3 linked regions of the Homo sapiens genome follow. The protein of the gene in region 3 interacts with the protein of the main gene of each other region in a biochemical or structural test. Each region holds a gene or a part of one and is shown on either strand. Other genes may lie near its edges.

Region 1 (7,107 bases), on a different chromosome or scaffold from region 3:
CAGGACAGGTGAGAGCTGCGAGCCTGTGTAGACCAAACTGGGAATTCGTGGTCCAAAAGCATATTTGTTCTTCAGAGACACGGATGAGCTGGGACAGAAAATAGGGGAAGACAACAGGCCAAGGCCACTCTGTGTTACTTTTCCTGAAGTCAGAATCAGTTGAGGCACACACTGGGGCCTGCAGGCATCGAGTGAGCCGCGTGGAGGAACATGTTGTGTCTGCCGTTTTTGAATACCCAGGGTGGGAGCTTGGCCATCTGCATCCCCACTTCCCATAGCCCAGGCAGAGGGACAGAGAAATGGAGTGGGGAGCACAGAGCAGGCTCCAACAAGACAAATTCCCTGCTGCCAAACCACCATGATCCACTCTGACTTTGGTCACAAACTCTGCTAAAAACAATTCTCTACGTTCACTGTTCCCAAGGGTCATTCTAAACAGTGGTGGCCACCACCCCTTAGAAGCAAGAGAAAAAGAAAAAAGGCAAATAAATGCAGAAGGCAGCCAGAGCCTCCCAGATGCCCCTGCTCAGGACCCTTCCCCGCAGCTTGGCAGTGGCCACTCAGGGCTTGGCCACAGGCAGGGCTTGGCTCAGTATCCTGTCAGGGGCAAGAGCCAAGCTGTCTGGGAGGGTCGGGGGATGCAGGAAGGATGTGTGGGAATCACCAGGCCATTGCTGCATTTGGGGTGACAGGCTGAGTCTGCCAAGCCGGAGGGAGCCCTGAGGCCTCATCCTCACTGGGGGTCCTATTCCTGGAAGAGTGCTGAATGTCAACTCCCAGGCCTCCTCTTCCAGCAATAAGGAAGCCATGTCTGAGAGGGGAAGGGCAAGATGTGCCCTCAGCCTCACTCAATGAGCTCCACGTAGTTGGCAGGGAACATGCCAAAATGGCCATCCGGCCCATAGCCACGCCACCAGCCTTCGTCGATCACCTCGATGCCCGTGATGAGGTTCTCGGGGTCAAAGGAGATCTCTGTGTCGTCGGCTGCAAAGAGGATGAGCCCAGATGCATATCAGGGGCTCCCTCCCACATCCCACCTGCTCGGGCAGCCCACGGCAGCCCCACACTGCTGCAGCACACCTCGCTGCAGCTCTGGTTCCTCCTCAGAAATATCCCTGCCACCCTGCTAAGCCTTGGCCAACACTGCACCCTGTCCCAATGCGGCTCCAGTGACCACACCCCCAGGGCATACCCTCCTACAGAGCATTCCCAAAAAAGGCTAGAGTAGACACCAGCCTGCTCCGTAGGGGGCCTCCACCCCATTCTCCAAGGCCTCCACCCAGGGACGCCTGGTGAACCAGCATCCAGGCCTGGCCCACCTCCCTGCTCAGAGTCCATGTTCTGTGACAAGGGTGGCAACTGGGATTCACATCAGCGGCCAGCAAATAGCTAATGAGGAACATGTAGGGAGGCCTGGGCTGTGCAGAACACTCTAGTGCCACAGTCACCCCCACTCCAGAGGTGCTTCTACCCCTAAACGCACCGCCCACCCTCCTGTCTTCTCTTCCTGATACCCCCTGGTGCCATCTTCCCATAAAACCCCAGACCCTCTTGTCTCCTAACCTCAGGACCCTGTGGTCTGTGCCAGCCAGGCCAGGGCACCTTACCTGCCTGGTAGTCGTACAGGGCACGGGCACAGAGCCCTTGCCCACTGAGCCCCTGGCCCTGAATGTGGTGGTCAATGTGCTCAGAGCCAGCACCTTGCTGCTGCACCTGCCCAGGGATGACAAAGGTGTTACCCCAGACTCAGCCCTTACACACAATCGCTGCTCTGCCCCACATGGCTCAGGTCAAGCTGGGAGTACGCAGAGGGCAAGCAGTCTACAGGCTCGGGGGCTGGGCTGCTGCTGTCCCCGCCCTACCAGAGTACAGAAGCCACAGGACAGTGCATAAATCCCTCAGCCATAGGCTGCAAGGTCCTCTTCCCACCCAGCACCTCCTATAGAGTGGGGCGTGCCCTGACAATTTATAACACAGGGCTGCTCCAAAAATGCATGTGCTTTAAAACCTGTTGCATGCCCCCAGAAAACTCAGGCGGCCCGTGATAAGTGTTCCTGAGTATGCAGCCCCTTCCTGGCCCCAGCCCCAGTGTAGGAACCCACCAGTGGGGGCTGCTCGTAGAAGGTCTCCTGCTCTGGAGGTTCCTCATACACAGCCTCCTCTTCTGCCTGCACCAGACATGGAGGAGTGCTGGGCGCCGGCTCCTCAGCAGGGAGATCTGCACCAGGGAACACAGCAGGTTCTCACTCCCACACATCCCCCTTCTCCACTGCTGTCCCCCAGGGTCCCCATGGGGTGACAAGCGCCTTGCCTGCCCTGGGCCTTGAGATGGCAGCAGCTGGCTCTCTGCCAAAGTGGGTCTCTGGTTGGGTGAGCTGCTTCTGCAGGAAGGGGCTCCTCAGCTTGCCTGCAAACCCGGGTAAATATATACATCACTTCAGAAACACCACCACACACCCACGCACCCCACAGCACCCTCCACCCTGGTGTGCTCGAGGCAGTCTCATGGGGCTTGCTCTTGCTAGTGCAGGAACAGAGGCCCCAGGGCCATGTGCTATGTGGTGACGTGGTAGACAGCGCAGCCCAATATCTTTTGGAGGCCAAACTGGTGACCAGTGTGGTCACTGATGAGGTCAATGGCCCCAGGTGTCCCTTCTCCTCACTCACTCACCCGTCACCGATATATCTGTCACTAGCCTTGGGGGAGCCCACATAGGACCCCAGGCTCCCCCTCAGCCTGCTGCTGCCTCATGGCCAGGCCCAAAGGGAGAGCTCACCAGGCTGAGGACTGGAGATGGAGGTGGTGGACATGGCCCTCTCCTTCTGCTTGAAAATCTCCCTCGGGTGCACGGCAGACTCCTGGAGGGAAGCACATGTTGACCCCTGCAGTGGGCAAAACCTTCACCACCTCTCCCCAGATCACAGCCCCTCCAGCTGTCGGCCCAGTAGCCCCTCAAAGGTGAGTGTGGGGCCAGGAGGCAAAACATGTTCTCAGGAGAGAAGTCATTTAAAAATAAAAAGTAACGTTAAAAAAGGAAGTAAAACACAGAAGCCAAGGGGCTCCCAGGGCCTCCCCCAGGACCAGGTGTGGTCCAAGCCCGACGCTTCCGCCTTTGGCTTTCCTCTCTACTGCCACCTCTTGAGGTGCCCAGATTCCAACCTGCCCCAGCTGACTGCAGGGCAGCCTCTGCCCAGGTCTGGGCTGGGCCCTCAATCCGAGATCAGGGACTTCTGCGTGTGGCCAGGACAGGTCCAAACAAGTAGAGCACCCCCATCTTACCTGCTCATTTCGGTTCCTTGAAACCACTTCTTGCTGCTGCTCCCACGTCCTGCTGGGAAGGGCCGGGTGGGGCACAGCTGAGGCACAGTCACAGCTTCTCATGCCACACCCCTTAGTCCTCCTCGCCTCCATGGGATGGAGCAGGTGCCCAGCAATGCCTCAGGGTGGGTCCCCCAGGCCAGCCTCCACCTCTGGCTCACCTCTGGGGGCTGGCCTCGCCACCCTGCTCCTGATAGCGCTGCTCCCGGCGTGCAGCCTCACGCAGCTCACGCTCCCGGCGCTCCTGCTCCAGCTGCCGCTGTGCCTCCTCGGCCCGCCGCTTTTCCTCCAGCCGACGGTTCTCCTCCTCCTTCTGCAGGGAGAGCCACTGCCCGCTCAGCCCTATGCTGCCACTTCAGCCTAATCCCCTGCCCAGGACTGAGTTTTAGGCACATGGCCAAAGACGGGCACCAGAGCCAGTCGATCATTAGCCTTGTGGCTTAACTTACCCGAGCCTCAGTGTGACCATCTGTAATGGGCACCAAGGAGAGTGGATGCTGCATGAGCTCACTTGTGAGGAAAGATGAGCCACAGCAAGCAGAACACTCCCACGTGCCCAGCATGCCCCGGGGCAGCACTCACCTCTGCTTTGGCCCAGAAGCTGTCTTTACCAACCCTTTTAATCTCAGACACGGCATTGGTCTTCTGGTACACAGAGCCCTGTAGGGGACAGCACTCATTAGAGACCTGGACCCAGGTGGAAGGCCAGGCCCACAGGCACCAAAGGAGAGAATACGCTAAACTTGCGACAGCACAGGTGAGTGCTGCTAGGACTGGACCCAGCAGAGGCAGCAGAGCACTGCCCAGTGACCCTCAAGGAGACACACACCAAGATGACCTGAAAGAAGCCCAGGACACTGCCCCAAGGGGGATGCTCAATCCCAGACAACACTAGAGGGGTCTCTGGTGGTCTCTCGCCCTCATGGATGGGGGCCAGGGCAAGAAAGGCCCCCATACCCCACCTGCAGACTCCTAGACATTGGGCAGTTCTGAGGCAGGCCTCTGACCAGGGGCACTCAGACAGCTGACTACCACAAGAGCATCCAAGGAATCACGTCCAACCACACGCATGCGGACGCAGCTCCCAGCCATCAGCTCCACACAGCACTGGGGCCACAGGCCCACAGGTATCTCCCGTGACTCCAAGGGGCCTGCTCTGGTTTCAGGCTCCGCCTTGATGCCTCCTTTAGTTCCTCCACGGTGGCTACCTCCAGGGGCAGCCCAAGATGTTCCAGTGCCATGACCTTGAGGGCAGCCAGACTATCATAGCCATGCATGCTGCAGAGCCTCCACTCTGACCACACAGGCTGGGCTCCAGAGGAAGGCTCCAGAACAGCTAGTCCAACCCCTAGGCAAGGTCAGAGGGCTATTCCTGCTCATCTGGTCAGTGGGCAATCACCACAGCTCAGGGGTTACCATCTGCAGAAACTAAGCAGGCATGGGCCCAGCCAGCCCGGGTGCTGGGAAGTGCATATTCCTGGCCCCCTGCCTCAGGCCCTGAGCAACAAAAGGGCTGGCGATGGGCAAGCAGCACTCACCACTGGGGCCTGGGGTCCCACGTCCTGGAAGCGGCCACTCTCCTTGTGAAAGCTGTAGTTGGCACCTGAAGCCTTGGCCACCTTCTCCATGATGCACTCAGGCTCCACATCCTCCTCGGCCCGTGCGTTGATGGTCACATGGGCCCCCTGCAGCAGGAGCAGCACTTGAAAGAAGGGCTTTGCAAGCCCAGGAGATGGGCCAAACTCCTGTCAGTCCATACAGCACGGGCCACTACTATACCACACAGGACTGGAATCAGGAAACTAGAAGGCACCTGTCTGGCTGCTGAAAACTGAGGCACGAGTTCCCCTCAAGGGCTCAAACAAACCAACTTGGAGCAAACCCCTCATTCTTGTCCCAGTTCACGTGAGACCCTTGACCTCCACTGTGCTATCCAGTGGTTCCTTCTGTAGCTGTTCCCTGCTGTGTATCAATAGACAGCCCAGGCATAATTTGCATCAAAGGCCTTCCTTCTAATCAATGAAAACTAATTTTAAATGCCATCTGGAAGCCACAAAAGACCCTGAATAGCTAAAGCAATCTGAAGCAAAAAGTACAAAGCTGGAGGCTTCATGCTACCTGATTTCAAATTAAACTACAAAACTACAGTAAGCAAAACAGCATGGTACAGGCATAAACACAGACACAACAATGGAAACTAACAGAGCACTCACACACACAGCCAACTCATTTTTAACAAAGGTGACAGGAACATACACTGGGGAAAGGACGGTCTCCTTCATAAACAGGGCTAGGAAAATTGGATATCCATATGCAGAAGAATGAAACTAAATCTTCATCTTTTACCATATTAAAAAAAAACTCAAAATGGGTTAAAAAGACTTAAATGTAAGACCTGAAACTATGAAACTACTCAAAGAAAACACTGGGTAGATGCCCCTGGACATTGATCTGGGCAAAGATTTTTTTTGGGTTAAGACCTCAAAAGCCCAGGCAACAAAAGCAAAAATCAACCAATTGGACTACATCAAGCTAAAAGGCTTCTGCACAGCAAATGAAACAATCAACAAAGTAAACAGACAACCTACAGAATGGGAGAAAATATCTTCAAACTATCCATCTGACAAGGAATTAGTGACCAGAATATATAAGGAACTCAAACAACTCAGTAGCAAAAAAATAATAATCTGATTTTAAAATGGGCAAAAGACCTTAACAGATATTTCTCGAAAGATGATATACGCATGGCTAACTACATACAAAAAAATGCTCAACATCACTAACCATCATCAGGGAAATGCAAACCAAAACCATAACGGGCTATCATCTCACCACAGTTAGAATGGCTATTATAAAAAACATAAAAAATAAATGCTAGCAAGGATGTGGAGAAAGGGAAATTCTTATACACTGTTGGTAGGAATGTAAAGTAGTACAGCCATTATAAAAACAGTATGGTTTTTTGGGTTTTTTTCTGAGACAGAGTCTTACTCTGTTGCCCAGGCTGGAGTGCAGTGGACAATCTCGGCTCACTGCAACCTCCACCTCCCAGGTTCAAGAGATTCTCTGCCTCAGCTTCCTGAGTAGCTGGGATTACAGGTGCCCGCCACCACACCTGGCTAATTGTTGTATTTTTTTAGTAGAGACGGGGTTTCACCATGTTGGCCAGGCTGGTCTTGAACTCCTGACCTCAGGTAATCTGTTCACCTTGGCCTCCCAAACTGCTGGGATTACAGGCGTGAGCCATCGCGCCTAGACAACAGTATGGTTTTTAAAACAGTATTTTAGTCCTACTAAAAGCAGAACTACCATATGATCTAGCAATCCAGCTGCTGGGGATATATCCAACTCTGAAGTTCAGCGCTATTAACAATAGCCAAGATACGGAATCAACCAAAACGTCCATCAATGGATGAAAGGGTAAAGAAAATTTAGTATATAAACATGAGGGAATATTATTCAGCCATAAAACAGAATGGCATCCTGTCATTTGCAGCAACATGGATGGAACTGGAGGTCATGATGTTAAGGGAAATAAGCCAGGCACAGAAGACAAGTATTGCATGTTCTCACTCATGTGGGAGCTAAAAAAGTGGGTATCATGGAGGGAGAGAGTAGAATGCTGGTTACCAGGGGTTGGGAAGGGCATGGGGGAGAGAAAATGAAGAGAAGTTGCTTAACAGGTACAAAAGTACAGTTAAATAGAAGGAATAAATTCTAGTATTCAATAGTACAGAAGGGAAATTATAGTTAACAATAATTTTGTGTATTTCAAATTAGCTAGAAGA
Region 2 (7,107 bases), about 34 Mb from region 3:
TAAAAGTGTTCTATTAGGCCATGACAAAATAACAGTTCTGCTTGAACAGCAAACACCCAACTGATCATTTAAATTGCCTGAATTTTTAAAACTTGAATTTGATAGAAAATGAGCCAGGTTTTTCCCTGTTAGAAGAGATTGTTTTTACCTGTTAGAAGAAAATGCAGGCAACTTTGGGAAGGACGTGCAACTTTTATGGTTACGAAGCCACTATTTAAATAGTCTAACATGCAACTTACAGGTGCCAACTCCCTAGCAAGGCTTAACTTAGAAAAGGCCTCAATTATTCAACCACTAACAAAGTTCCTTTATTAGTAAGAGATGCTTTTAAAAAAGAACCAGATACTTTAAAGTGTTACATTAAATGCAAACTCTTCATCTATTTCAAATGAGTATTTTTGGAGTGTGGAATAGAGTTGTTCACAGTTTTCACTTCTGGTTTCTCATTCTCGATTATGCAAAAATGAACTCACAGAGACGAATTCAATTATGTATTTTGAAAAGTATTTACTTAGTTTAAATAAATTAATTGCAAATAAAAATTAAGCTACAATATATAGCCTGAATAAAAATGACTAGAACAAATACAACACAGGACTTGCTTTCTTGCATTAGTCACAAAGCATGTGACAATCTAGAAAACTTCAAAATCAATTACATTTCTTTGAAAAAGGGGTAACAGCAGTTACTGATACATCACAACTAATAAACTTATAATACAAGTTTCCTGACATGCATTTCCTGAGTGAACCCAAATGATCATTTTTTAAAACAAGGAAGTTTCGACAGTTGAAGTAAAATAAAATAATTCATGGCTTCTAAGCAACAAGTTTTGTTTTTTAAAAACCAAAAGAAAATTCAGAACAGTTTTGTAATAGGATAAATTAAAGGTATGCTACCACATATAAAACTTTGCTACAGTCAGTTAAGTATTATACAACTTTTCAAACTAAAGGAAAACAAATCAAAATATTAAAAGAAGATACTGTCTAATCTAAAAGTGTACTGGTTTCTACAAGTGTCAAAAAAAGATTTGATGTAGTGCAACTGTCTATACTTGTGGTGCCTTTGAAAAAAGGGTGGGAAGGAGGGGAGAGAAGAAACTTTTCTTGCTTCTGGAAGCAAAAGACATATTGGAATTAGAGAATAAACAGACCATGCAGTGCGTCACTCCACGCTGCAGTCATTGGTGCTCATCTGCCAACCAAACATTTCCTTAAGTCTCACTGTGGCAATCTCCTTAGGATTCAAACCCAGAGTTAAGGCTGGTCTGCTAAAAACGGGGGCACTATTGTCATTCAACCCTTTAGATCTCTAGATTTCCTAATGCCCGAATAAGGCCAAATACAGAATAATTAATTAAGCATTTCTTTTTCCAAAAGCAAATCAAGTCACTCTCCTTTCTTGCTAATTTATACTTTTTCTTATGGCAATGATTTTTTTCTAGAAACAGTGAACAGATGAACCACAGTTTATATCCAAAAAATAAACTTGCCAAATGCTGCTGATACTAAAAACAGATTAGTTATCATGGGAGAAAAATAGATAATCTAGATTAAATTGCATATCCAAAGGAGCATATAAAATGTTTCTTAGCATTAAGTTTTTGTTATAGTACTACGCTCGAGAGAAACATTAAGAAAAAATCTTTCCTGATTATCTTCAATGTTGTTAAAAACAAACACCTTTCACGCGGGTAATTAGTATGAATTTGGTCTTACAAATTACAAAGTATTCTAATTTACCAAATTCCATATTTAGATTGGGGTGGGGAGAGAGGCTCTCTCGTCCTTCTTCCTAACTTTGCAAATCCTTGAGCTAGGTTGCTCACTAAGCTACCATTCACACCAAGGGTGTGACACCATCGTTACCATGCTACTCTATCAAGAACATTCTAAGGTATTTTCTATAATAAAGATAAATAGAAAAAAGTTAATATACATGTCGCTGTATTTTACAATGTTTGCAACAAACTGTAAACTAACATAGTTTGAACCAACAGTACCCTCAGTTATACAAAACAATTTCAGCACTGAGGATAGGTGATTCAAAAACACTAAAAGGAAGGCATCAAATTAGACTATGTCTTTTTCTCCTCAAAATATATTTTCAAAACTCAGAATTCAGAAGACTGATACTTTCAGAAATTCCTTTGCTTGAGTTTCCCAGATTTTTGCTCAGAAATTGCTACTATTTATTATAAATGTTTTAAAAAATTCTTCATCTTAATGCAAATGACCAGAGCAGAAAAACTGTGACGTGGACAACAGGTTCGAAAACCCAACTCACTTAGCTTATAAATTTATAATGTAGTCCTGCAAGACAATGGTCTGTTAGTCTAGAGGTCCTTGAAAAATAAGTCTGATGTAGCCTTGTTCACCAGCCAACTGATGTGCACAAAAGGGACAGGCTGCATGAAAAGTATGAGTACCATGAGGAAGTGGGATCTGGGACCAATAGGCAGTTGTCTTTTCTGAACACACATGCCCACACGGGCTAAACGCATGGGTTGGAGGGCCGGCGTCCACATAAAATCCAGCTTCACATCCAAGCCACAGAGGAACATAGGGACCAACAGACCTACACATAGGACATTCACGATCTTTTCCATCACGTTCTTCTTTGTTTCCCCAGTTATGATAGCCATGTACATGGCCGCAGTTTAGATATACCCATGGTTGTTTTTCATCTACAACGTCTTTCCTCTTCATACTAGGAAATGCTAGTGTGTTGAACCCTACAGGGCACTGAGGTCGTGCTGCATTGATTTCCTGTCTTAAAGCTTCTAAATGCTTCACGGTAGGAGTGTGGGAAAGGCCTTCTGCAGTACGCCATAACAATGTTGCACCACAGAGGTCAATTAACGAGCCATCTTGTAACTGATTGGTTTCAATTTCCACCTAGAGGAGACAAGAGTTGAAAAACATATTCACCACTCTGTTTTGGATTTTTACATAAGTGTTTTGGTTTTAAGTACTCCTTACTCAAGAAATGAGGTTTCCTAGGATTTTCACTAAATATTCAAGAAACTGACAGTAGTTATGAAAAATGTTAAGTTTGAAAATCAAGGATAAAATATCAAACATTAACATATTTCTTTTTAGCCTTATGGTAAAGACAACTTATGATTAAAACATCTGGCTAATCAATAAGTCTAATATTTTTAATGAGGTAAATATGGTTTAAGATATACAGATGGCAACAGAAAAGATCAGAGGGAGTGCTGTTTAGTTTAAGAAAGCTTAGGTTTTAAAATATATTAACATGATATGACAGAAGAATGAACTTCCAGAGTTTACTAAAATGCTCTTGTTGCCCAGGCTGGAGTGCAATGGCGCAATCTTGGCTCACCGCAACCTCTGCCTGCCAGGTTCAAGCTATTCTCCTGCCTCAGCCTCCCGAGTAGCTGGGATTACAGGCATGCGCCACCATGCCTGGCTTATTTTGTATTTTTAGTAGAGACAGGGTTTCTCCATGTGGCTCAGGCTGGTCTCGAACTCCTGATCTCAGGTGATCCATCTGCCTCGGCCTTCCAAAGTGCTGGGATTACAGGTGTGAGCCACCGCGCCCGGCTACTAAACGAAATATTAAAGAGACTGTCCTCTAGTATAGAATTTGGTAGTCAGTGTTTGATAGACTTAGTATTCTGTGTTGGCAATAGATTTAAGAGTTTTCTGGAATGTATGTAATGCATTCAGTTCTACTCATCCTATGTGTTTATTGTAGCTAATTAAGAAAATACCATTCAGTATTTACCATTTTTCCTCTCTGCTGAGCCGATCTGGTTTCACGTAGGCTAAATACATTTCCACACACCGATATTTCTCTCCATATTCCAGGCTTGGAGTCTTCTGTGAACCCATTGCGTGGATGCATCACAAGAACACCATTAGTGGTCAAGCCATCCATCTGTCCATCTGATGTCTTCCATTTGGCAGCCTTCTCCTAGTAGAAATAATAGCAGTGAGCTTCCAACTTGTAACTTGTAACTTGGAATGAAAGCTAGTATAAAAGAAAGCATCATTTAGAAAAAAAGCTTTTTACCCCAAGAAAGATGTTTTTTGATGAGTCAAATCCTGCAGCATAAATCCGTGCTGTAAAGGGAGGATTCCGTTCACATATGATTCTGCAGGCAAATCTTGATATAGTGCTTTGTACTGACTGTGTATCAGAATTACTTTGACTTCCAGGAACCGTGTCAGTTACTACAAAATCAATGGGGCTTTCAGTCGACCGGCCAATCTGAGGGAAAAAAAAAAATACCTATAAACCCATTCAAAGAGCACAGTGGAAAATCCATTCAAGAAGGGCACAATAAGGAGAGAACATTAGGTCTCTGAAATTTCTAAAGTTGAAGTTTACCATACTTAACGCTGGGGGCATCTATACTCTTGAAAACTAATCAGTCAGACTGTCTCTGATGAAGTAATCACTTAGAGCATGGAATTAAATGAGAACTTACAATAATATACGAAACCCTTAGGGAATGAAGAATTCAGGAACGGCTGAGATTTCTAGATGGCTGCAGATTTTAATTTTAACCCTTTTGGATGGAAATATGTGTATCATGTAGTTTTTTTCTCTTTAGAGATATTTAAAGAGATATTCTACCTTATTTAACAGAATATAGTGAACATATATAAGTAAATCTTTTAGGATGACTGCAGAACATTACACTATAAATACCACTTACGTTAAGCTGAAATGCAGTGATGTCTTCAGGTGCTACAAGAGGTATACAAGGCTGCTGGTCCTTATGTCAAGGGCTTACACAGCCTTGCTTTGAGGTCTTATGTATACTTCATATATTTTCTTGTTTCTTTTCTGTCAGGTTGTCAGCTATCACTCCTTGTTTTTGGTCATGCTTGTTTCCAGCAACAAGCCCCTCTTTTAACTGGCTACTCTTACTCTGTTATGGGTTGAGAAATCAAATAACCTATTTCAGAGAAAAGTATTTCAAAAGGTTCTGGTGAGAGCCTAAGGGATCCTCTAGGGAGAATAGAAAAGGAATTTCACTACATCAACTTTGTGGCATTTATTTTATATATATACTCTTCCTGGTTCTTAGGGATATTTCAGAGAGACAAGGTTCCCAGATAAGAGTTCTGGATGAGTGAGGTGTCAGAGATTTAAAAATATCTTCAGAGGTACTAGCTAGTAAATAAGTTAATTTCATTTTGAAAGTTGAAAGAAAAAAGGAAATCAATGGGGAGATGACAAAAGTGACAAGTGTCACGGGGCTTTAAAGCAAACATTTGGAAATTATCAGTTCATGAATGTATTTGTTATAAAGTAGTACCATAAAATTGAAGAATGTGGGTACTGAGAAAAAATACTGACCCTCTACAAAGATAAAGACTCTTAAAAGTCATTCTTTACATATTTTAGCCTCAAGTTCCTCATATCGGCACACTTTCAGATAAACCTCTTTAGTGTTTTTGTCCAACTGTCAAGTATAAAGTCTTTTTATTTAGATTGGATAGTTTTAGAGGGAAACTAGTTAACAAATATAAGATTGGATATTCCTTTTCTTTATTCTTAAAAATAAAGATACCTTAAATGGCCTCAGATCTTTGAAACAAAAAATATTCCCCCAAATAAAAAGGCTCTTTAAAAGCTAAAAGATATAGGCCAAGGATTGAACTAATATTCAGAATCAACAGAAGTAGCACTTATTTGGAAAGAGACTGTTCCAGAGAGCTGACATTTCAACTGGGTCTTGGAAGAGAATATTTAAGACACTGAAGCAATATTTGTAATGACAATGAGAAGGAAGAAACTTAAGTATCTATAAAGAGAAAAAAACCACCATGAATGTGATCAGATGCCAAAATATGATTGTTAATAATTCTTCCCCTGCTATTATTAGCATTAAAAATACAGCTCTTTTGTTACTCTCCCTTACCCTCATGAGAAAACTCAATGGTTCCTTATAGCTTATCCAAAATTTGTAGTTTATTATTTCTGATAATAGTTAGAAACTGACTCAAGATTTGCCTCCCATCTACCAATCCAGCCGAATTTCCTGCTATTTGTGTATACAAGCTACAACAGCTTATTCGTCAATCTTTCACCACACTGTGTACTACTTCTTTGCTTCTTTGCCATCTCTTTTGCTAGAATGCTTTTCTACCGGTTGCTGGCAAAAATCCTACTTAACCTGATAAAAAGATCTACATGAAAAGGCACCAGTGTAAAGTCTTTTCTCCATCCTTCTTCAACACAATCAATGTGCTTAAGATTTACAGGGTCAGTACAGCACCTAGGCATGTAATCAGCTTGTAATGTCTCCCTTATGTACTTCATAGTGACAAACAAGGCATAGAGTTGGAGTTGGAATATCTGATGACTTGAACAATAAATGTTCTTGTTCAGTTTACAGGGTAGACAATCCTAGAATGTTTCCAGTACAATTCCTCAAAGACTGGCTAGTTTATCAAGGTAGTTTCTGATACATCACAGTCTTTTTGATGCAGAAATGTTTGGATTTTCCAAAGGTATAATACCTGTAGAAAGGGCATAATCAGTTTATGATACTGGGGAAAATTCTCTACTTTATGAAAAAGACAAAACCCAAACTGTTAAAACTTATTCAAGGGCCTTCATTAGATGGTGAAGACATTGTTTCAGAATTCAGGATGCCTGGTTTAATTTCAGTTTTGCCCCCAAGTAACTCTATCATCTTTAACTCACAAGATTTCAGTTAACCTCATCTACAAAAGATAAGCGGTAAACAAATAAATATAACGTACTTTCTGAAGCTAAAATTCTAGCCTGTGACCAAATATCTTGGAGATACACACACACACACACACACACACACACACACACACATATATATTTATCTATATTTTATTAAAGAGACGAAGTCTCACTATGTTGCCCAGGCTGGCCTCAAGCTATCCTCCCACCTCAGCCCCCTGAGTAACTGAGACTACAGGCCTAGTAGCATCTTGATTTTAAAAAAAAGCTAAGCTCATTCATTTTCACTGCTTGTCAGTGAAACAAAATGTGAAAAATCATCCTAAAGCTTTGTGTTCGGTTTTTCTTGGATCTAAACATTAATCTTCCTTAAAGATCTTATTTATTTTTGGTAAAAGTGAGGAA
Region 3 (7,107 bases):
ACTCTAAGGAGGGAGAGCCGTGAGATAAACTGAGAAAGAAACAAAAATAATAATTACAGATTGAGGTCAGCATTACAAAGGAAATAAGTGGAGTGACATTAAGAGAGAGAAGAGGTGGCTCTAGCTAGGATGGTCACCTTCTCCAAGGAGCTAGCATTTGAAGGGAGAGCTGAAGGAGGAGGAGCCAACTTTTCAAAAAGCGCGCGGGACAGCGCATCAGGCAGAGAGGACTGCATGCGCAGAGGCCCTGAGGCCGCACCCAGCTTTGCTCACCCAAGGGCCCTACCCCTCAGCCTCCCTTGTCCCTTCCGCTGACCCTTTCCCCTCGGCCTTAGCAGGCACCCCTCGCCCTGCCCTCTGCCTTCCTTGGCAAGTTTCTACAGAGCATACGCTAATTGGAATATCCATCCCTAGGGGACTGGTTAAATGCATTAGGGTTTAATCTCAAAGTGAACTCTGATACAGCTATTAAACAAAACGTGTGATTGAGGGGAGGAGGAATTAAGGCTATTTAGACAGATGGATATCTGGTAAGGCAGATAACTTAAAATTGCCTGCCCTCAACTTTCTGGGGTGATGGTGACGTCCTGTATATTCACAGGGCTTGGGTTATGCAAGTGTCTGATTTTCCGAAAACTAAGAGAATGTACACTTAAGATGTGTTCATTCCATTGTATTTGCCCTCCCTCAATTAAAAAAGAAACATAAAATATTGAACCCTAGGTAACGATCTGCTTGCAGAAATGTTTAGGAGTGATGGGAACTGAGGACTGTAATCTAATTTGAGAGCATCCCAAAAATAACACTGACCGATGGACGAACAGAGCGAGAGGGATGGATAAAAGGATAGACAGCCAGATAGACACAGTTGATTTCTGTCATTCTCTGCAGTTCTATAAAGTCAACGAAAACACTGAATTAGCAATATAGAACTATCCCTCCTAGGGGAAATACAGAGTTAGGTTCCTAGGAAACTGTTTACATTTTCATCAACTGATCAAGACATAACCTTGTTTTTTTGTGAGTTTCTGTTTAAAGGCACCTTATTTAATAGACATGGTTGATTCACTAACATTGAACTCTTAGCCAACAGCACTATAACTATAAGCTTATCTGACATGTTTTCTCCATAAGGCACATACAGCATTCTTGCCCTTAGGAATGCTAGATAGCATTTCAGCACTATGGTTGGGGGCCATGTCAACCACTGAAATCACCAACAAAAAGCACAAACATTCAAAATATGTGAGGCCGAGTGCAACGGCTCATGCCTGTCATCCAGCACTTTGGGAGGCCAAGGCGGGTGGATCACTTGAGACCAGCAGTTCGAGACCAGCCTGGCTAACATGGTGAAACCCCGTCTCCACCATAAATACAAAAAATTAGCCAGAGGTGGTGGCGGGCACCTGTAATCCCAGCTACTTGGGAGGCTGAGGCAGGAGAACCTCGTGAACCCAAGAGGCGGAGATTCCATTGAGCCGAGATCAGGCCACTGCACTCCAGCCTGGGCAACAAGCGCGAAACTCTGTCTTTAAAAAGATAAAATAGGCCGAGCGTGGTGGCTCACGCCTGTAATCCCAGCACTTTGGGAGGCCAAGGCAGGTGGATCACAAGGTCAGGCATTCGAGACCATCTTGGCCAACACAGTGAAACCCCGTCTCTACTAAAAATACAAAAAATTAGCCGGGCATGGTGGCAGGTGCCTGTAATTCCAGCTACTCGGGAGGCTGAAGCAGAATTGCTTGAACCTGGGAGGCGGAGGTTGCAGTGAGCTGAGATCGCGCCACTGCCACTGCACTCCAGCTGGGGCGACAGTGCGAGACAGCAATCTCAAAAAAAAAAAAGATAAAATAAAAAAACAAAATATGTGGCACCACCAAATAGAACATGAAAAAGATTGGCCGGCTGCGGTGGCTCACGCCTCTAATCCAGCATTATGGGAGGCCGAGGCGGGTGGATCACAAGGTCAGGAGACCAAGACCATCCTGGCTAACACAGTGAAACCCTGTCTCTACTAAAAATACAAAAAAAAAAAAAAAAAAAAAAAAATCAGCCAGCCATGGTGGCGGGCGCCTGTAGTCCCAGCTACTCGGGAGGCCAAGGCAGAAGAATGACATGAACCCAGGAGGCAGAGCTTGCAGTGAGCTGAGGTCACGCCATTGCACTCCAGCCTGGGCGACAGAGTGAGACTCTGTCTCAAAAAAAAAGAACATGAAAAAGACACTTATCTGCAGCATGAGAGTGTTTGCCTTGTGCAGCCTCGGTGGGAAAATGTGTATCGAGTGATTCATATTTTTGCCACTCTGTATGTCTGAGAATGACCACAAAAGTGCCATGTTGGTTTTAGGGTTTCAGATAAATTTAACAAGTAGGCAAACTCACAAATAAGAACTCCGCAGTGTTGATCAACTGTATGTGATAAAGCAATTATAGCAAATCATAAACTGGAGAATCTAGCAGGTGAGTTATTGGTGTACAGTTAATTCTTTCTATTTTCTGCATATTTGTAAGTTTTCATAGAATGTTGGGAAAAAATACCTCTCCATAGCGGTTCTGAGTTGTTTCTCTACTAACATAGGCCCAGCAAGGCTACTCAGGCATAAGTTTGCATTGGAGAATTGACTTTGAGTGCCCTTCTTAGTTATGCAAATGCAACCAAGGGGTAAAATGAATGCTTTTGTGAAAGCTCCCTCTGCCCTGGGTGTCCAGAGATGGGCTCTGGAGCTGAAAGGAAGGTACTGGAATGGGAATCAGGTGAAGTCTGGGTCAGAGTAGCTAGAGGAGGGGCCAGGATCTGCACTGTAACCCGATTGATTGTGACAGTGAGGTTGGGAGGGCCAAGCTTGAGGGGGGTCCTGGATGTCCCAACAGTTACAGACAGGTGGGTGTTCCAGAGATTCATAAGGGACTGCATTTGTGGCTCCACCTGGAGAAAAAGGTCACCATTCCACAAGAGTGTTTTTAAAAAGTCATGAAGCGGCTGGGCGAAGTGGCTCACGCTTGTAATCCCAGCACTTTGGGAGATCAAGGCGGGTGGATCACATGGGGCCAGCAGTCTGAGACCAGCCTGGCCAACATGGTGAAACCCCGTCTCCATTAAGATACAAAAATTAATGGCTGGGCCCGGTGGCCCACACTTTGGGAGGCCGAGGCAGGCGGATCACCTAAAGTCAGGAGTTTGAGACTAGCCTGGCGAACATGGTGAAACCCCGTCTCTATTAAAAATACAAAAAAATTAGTCGGGCGTGGTGGTGGGCGCCTGTAGTCCCAGCTCCTCAGGAGGCTGAGGCAGGAGAATCGCTTGAACCCAGGAGGTGGAAGTTGCAGTGAGCCGAGATCGCACCACTTCACTCCAGCCTGGGCAACAGAGCAAAACTCCATCTCAAAACAAAACAAAACAAAACAAAACAAAAAAACCCATGAAGGCTCCTAGGTATTCACTCTAAAGAAATGGAAATTTACATTCACACAAAAACCTACACAGGAACATTTATAGCCGTACTAGCCACAGTTGCCAAAAATTAGGAATAACTTACATGTTTCCCAACAGATGAATAAGATACACTGTGGGACATGCCTACAGTGGAATTCTACTCCGCGGTAAGTGGAACAGCATACGGAGACACGCAGTTCCGCAAACGCATCGCAAAGGCCTCAGGCTGGATGAAAGAAACCAGGTTCCAAGGGCTACGAATTGTGTGATTCCACACACAACTATAGGGACGGAAAACGCACCAGAGGTTGCTGGGTGCTGGGGGCCGGAGAAGGAGTGACGACAGAGGGCAGGACGGAATTTGGGGGAATAGTCTGTATCTTGATTGATGTGGTGGTAGTCTCTGGGCTGTATGCATTTGTCAAATCTCAGAATTTTTCACTAAAATGATATAAAAATTTTATTGCATGTAAATTATACCCCAAATTTTTAATTAAGGGGGAAAGGAACTGGAAGATACAGACACAATGGACACTAAAAATGCTAATGAAAATAGGAAAAGTGATTAAGGGCTGTCTACACTCCTGTCCCTATGTCCTTGACTCCCAGCCTCTCAGCCAGACCTGGTCTGCGCCCCCCCCCCAGGCTGTTCTCCAGCACTGATAGCACCCCTGGCAGTCTGTAGGCACCAGACAAGCACTCTGTGACCTCCTCAATCCTGGGCCCCCTGAATGGCCGACACCTATGACTCCTCCCTCCTGCTTGAGCCCCACAGACCTCTCTGGTCCTTCACAAACTCCCTGGCTTGCCTCTGCCCTCTGACCATCCTGCTCACTCTCCTTCCCCCACCCCCGTCCCCTTACTTGGGTCATCCTGTCAGTAGCTGTACATGCTGCCACACCCACCTCTCCCAGAGCCCAGATCTCTCGCCCGACTGAGGTCGGTTGGTGCTGGCATCATCTCCTTTGATCTCCACCAACTGTTTCCATTAATACAACCAACCTAAGATCCAGATGGCATGCTCATGCTGCCTGTGGCTGGCTGAACCTCACAGTCTATTTCCACAGAGCTGAGCCCCAGAGTCTGCAAGTTGCTCCTTGGCAATTCTTCCCCAAGGCCTCCCTTGCTCAAGACCCTAATGGCTACTGCATTGGATCTCCCCAGCCCTCTGCCCCAGCTGAGCTGTGCTACTTGCCTTCCTTCAAATGGATGTTCATACTTTCATCCACACAGCACCCTCCACCTAGTGCACCCTTCCCTCTCCCCTCCATCTTCTCCAACCCAGCCAGCCCATCCTTGAAGACTCATGGAGCCACTCCCATAAAGCATGAGGATGCAGGATGAGGCAGAAAACTGAGGGCTTGTCCAAGGACCATGGGTGCAGAGTAGCAAAGCTGGTCTCTGGGGCAGGAAGCTGTGGCAGGAAACTGTCGCCAACACAGTTTGAGAAGCTCCTCCCCACGTGGCCGCAGGTGCAGCCTGGGTAGCTAGAAGTGGGTTAGGGCAGAAGAGGAGATGAGGGAGGCTCAGTGCCCAGCCCAGGGCTGCCATCCATGACCCGAGGCTAAGGAGTCCCAGAGGCAGGCTCTCTTCCTGTGCATCTCGGCTGCGTCCCAGCTTCCCTGTCCCACTGCCCACAAGGACAACGGTAATCACAAGCACCACCCCACACACACAGGTCGGGTGGTGGGCGCCTCCTCTTCCACCCCTGGGGCCTTTCTGGACTGTCCTCACTAGTAAAACATGGGGCCCAAGTTCCCAGGGACCCCATGGCCAGAGATGCTGGGGAGGCCAGAGAAGGTGGGCAGAGGTGGCAGAGATGAAAAGTCCGGGGGCAAGAGGTGGGAGCATTTGCCACGCAGCGGCTAGCCGGAGTGTCTGCTGTCAGTGAGCTGCACCGATCTAGAGCTCCCCGGGGTGACCCCAGACCCCAGGCAGGGGATCAAATGTTTCTGTTCTCAGCTGTGTCCCTGCAGACTCGTGGCCCTCCCAGAAGACACACCCACCATGAGACCCACCCCAGCCCTCGACCTGCCTGGGCCATCCCGACGGACAGGACTTGGGTTAGGAGCCGCGTCCCTCAGTCCCCAGTGAGCCTGTTCATTCCCCAAGCCTGGCCTATGGTTCTCCCTAGGCTGACCCCAGTCAGCTTCCTCTTGAGCTCACAGTTCAGAGATCCTAGTTTGGCCTTCCCAGAACTTACAGCCCCTGGATCACAGCACAGAGATCACAGCAGAGCAGCCACGGGGCACCTGCCCCACACTCACAGCCCAGGCCCTGGGAGGATGATGGGAGGAAGCCTTGGAGCCTGGTCAGAAGGACCTGCCTGGAATCCCACCATTCACCCAGCCTCCCTGGGTAAAGGCAGTGCTAGATTACAGCTGTTCCAGAGAGATCAGATTCCCCAAACATGCTTCAAAGGAAAAAAGAGTCAAGGGGTCAAATACAGTTTCAAATGCTGTGAAAAGCACATTAAAGGCTCCGAGAAGACCACATGGAAGGACCTCTTTCAGCGTCACTTAATTCCCACACCTATTCAGCAAAGCCTTGAAGGTCTACTGTTTCACAGAACATTCCCTGGGCATCAGAAGCCCCCATTACATGCCCATCGTCAGAGCAGAGGTATCACACCAAAGCCACTGGACCTGGTGGGAGCGGGCAGGAGCAGCACAAGCTCCACATGTCCCCCCAGCCAGAGGCTCCACGTGTCCCCCCAGCCAGAGGCTCAGAGGCTCCTCGTGTCCCCCCAGCCAGAGGCTCCACATGTCACCCCAGCCAGAGGCTCAGAGGCTCCGCATGTCCCCCCAGCCAGAGGCTCCGCATGTCTCCCCAGCCAGAGGCTCCGCATGTCCCCCCAGCCAGAGGCTTGACATGTCCCCATCCAAGGCTCTGCAGGAGCAGGGCCCCAGCCCCTCACCGCCCCACCTCCTCCTACTGCCCCCCCACCACCCTGTTCCCACTCCAGCTCCTGGCTCTCTCTCTCTGAACCCCTAGTCCTCACCTGAGACCCTAAGTCCCTCTGAAGCCATGTTCCCTGCTCCTTAATCCCCCAGCTGTGCTCGGGCCGCCTGTGCCCACCAACAGAGGCAGCATAGGCACTGGTCGTCAGCACACGCCAGCTTGGTGACGCCATGAGCCACACAGCCGCAGTTAGCCATGGCTGCAGGCTCCTCCTTCATATGTCTTTCCTGACTGCAGGGATTGGATTCAAATCATGGAATCGTGGACCCACCACATGGTCACAGTGCAGCCTCAGCAGCGAGTGAAGCTCGCCAGACCTCCTCCGGAAAGCAGGGCCAGTGAAGGTGTCCAGCACTGGGGCTGCAGGGACTCCCTGGGGTGAGACTTGCTGGCCCCCGTCATGCCATCACATCCTCTTCTCTGCTTGAAGCCCTCTAGGCTCCCACCTCACTCGGGGTGAAAATGCAAGTCCTCAGGGTGGCCCCCAAGGCCCTTCATGATGCCCATCACCACCCCCCGCCACTCACTCCCCTCCAGCCACACGGGCCTCCTCATGTTATTCGTTCAGGTCCCTCGGACAAACCAGGCATGGTGCAGCCTCAGGGCCTTTGTACTGTCTGTTCCCTCTGCCTGGAGACTCTTCCTCCAACACCTTCCACTTTATTCAGGTCTCTGCCTAAGTCACCTCCTCCAGGAGGCCTTCCCTGACCTCC

What was found.
Region 1: the proteins of ZAP70 (region 3) and DBNL form a complex in vitro, tested with the Homo sapiens proteins (one study listed by BioGRID).
Region 2: the proteins of ZAP70 (region 3) and PELI1 form a complex in vitro, tested with the Homo sapiens proteins (one study listed by BioGRID).

Annotation. Positions count from the first base shown.
Region 1 is NC_000007.14:44,054,654-44,061,760, reverse strand, and holds part of DBNL (drebrin-like protein), read right to left. Parts: intron 5,005-7,107; coding exon 4,858-5,004; intron 3,980-4,857; coding exon 3,902-3,979; intron 3,633-3,901; coding exon 3,481-3,632; intron 3,333-3,480; coding exon of another isoform or gene 3,330-3,332; coding exon 3,281-3,329; intron 2,884-3,280; coding exon of another isoform or gene 2,860-2,883; coding exon 2,778-2,859; intron 2,408-2,777; coding exon 2,312-2,407; intron 2,219-2,311; coding exon 2,103-2,218; intron 1,714-2,102; coding exon 1,608-1,713; intron 985-1,607; coding exon 845-984; 3' UTR 1-844. UniProt on the Homo sapiens protein: Adapter protein that binds F-actin and DNM1, and thereby plays a role in receptor-mediated endocytosis.
Region 2 is NC_000002.12:64,092,369-64,099,475, forward strand, and holds the end of PELI1 (E3 ubiquitin-protein ligase pellino homolog 1), read right to left. Parts: intron 4,910-7,107; exon of another isoform or gene 4,694-4,909; intron 4,243-4,693; coding exon 4,045-4,242; intron 3,946-4,044; coding exon 3,757-3,945; intron 2,901-3,756; coding exon 2,334-2,900; 3' UTR 284-2,333; downstream 1-283. UniProt on the Homo sapiens protein: E3 ubiquitin ligase catalyzing the covalent attachment of ubiquitin moieties onto substrate proteins. Involved in the TLR and IL-1 signaling pathways via interaction with the complex containing IRAK kinases and TRAF6.
Region 3 is NC_000002.12:97,716,523-97,723,629, reverse strand, and holds part of ZAP70 (tyrosine-protein kinase ZAP-70), read right to left. Parts: intron 1-7,107. UniProt on the Homo sapiens protein: Tyrosine kinase that plays an essential role in regulation of the adaptive immune response. Regulates motility, adhesion and cytokine expression of mature T-cells, as well as thymocyte development.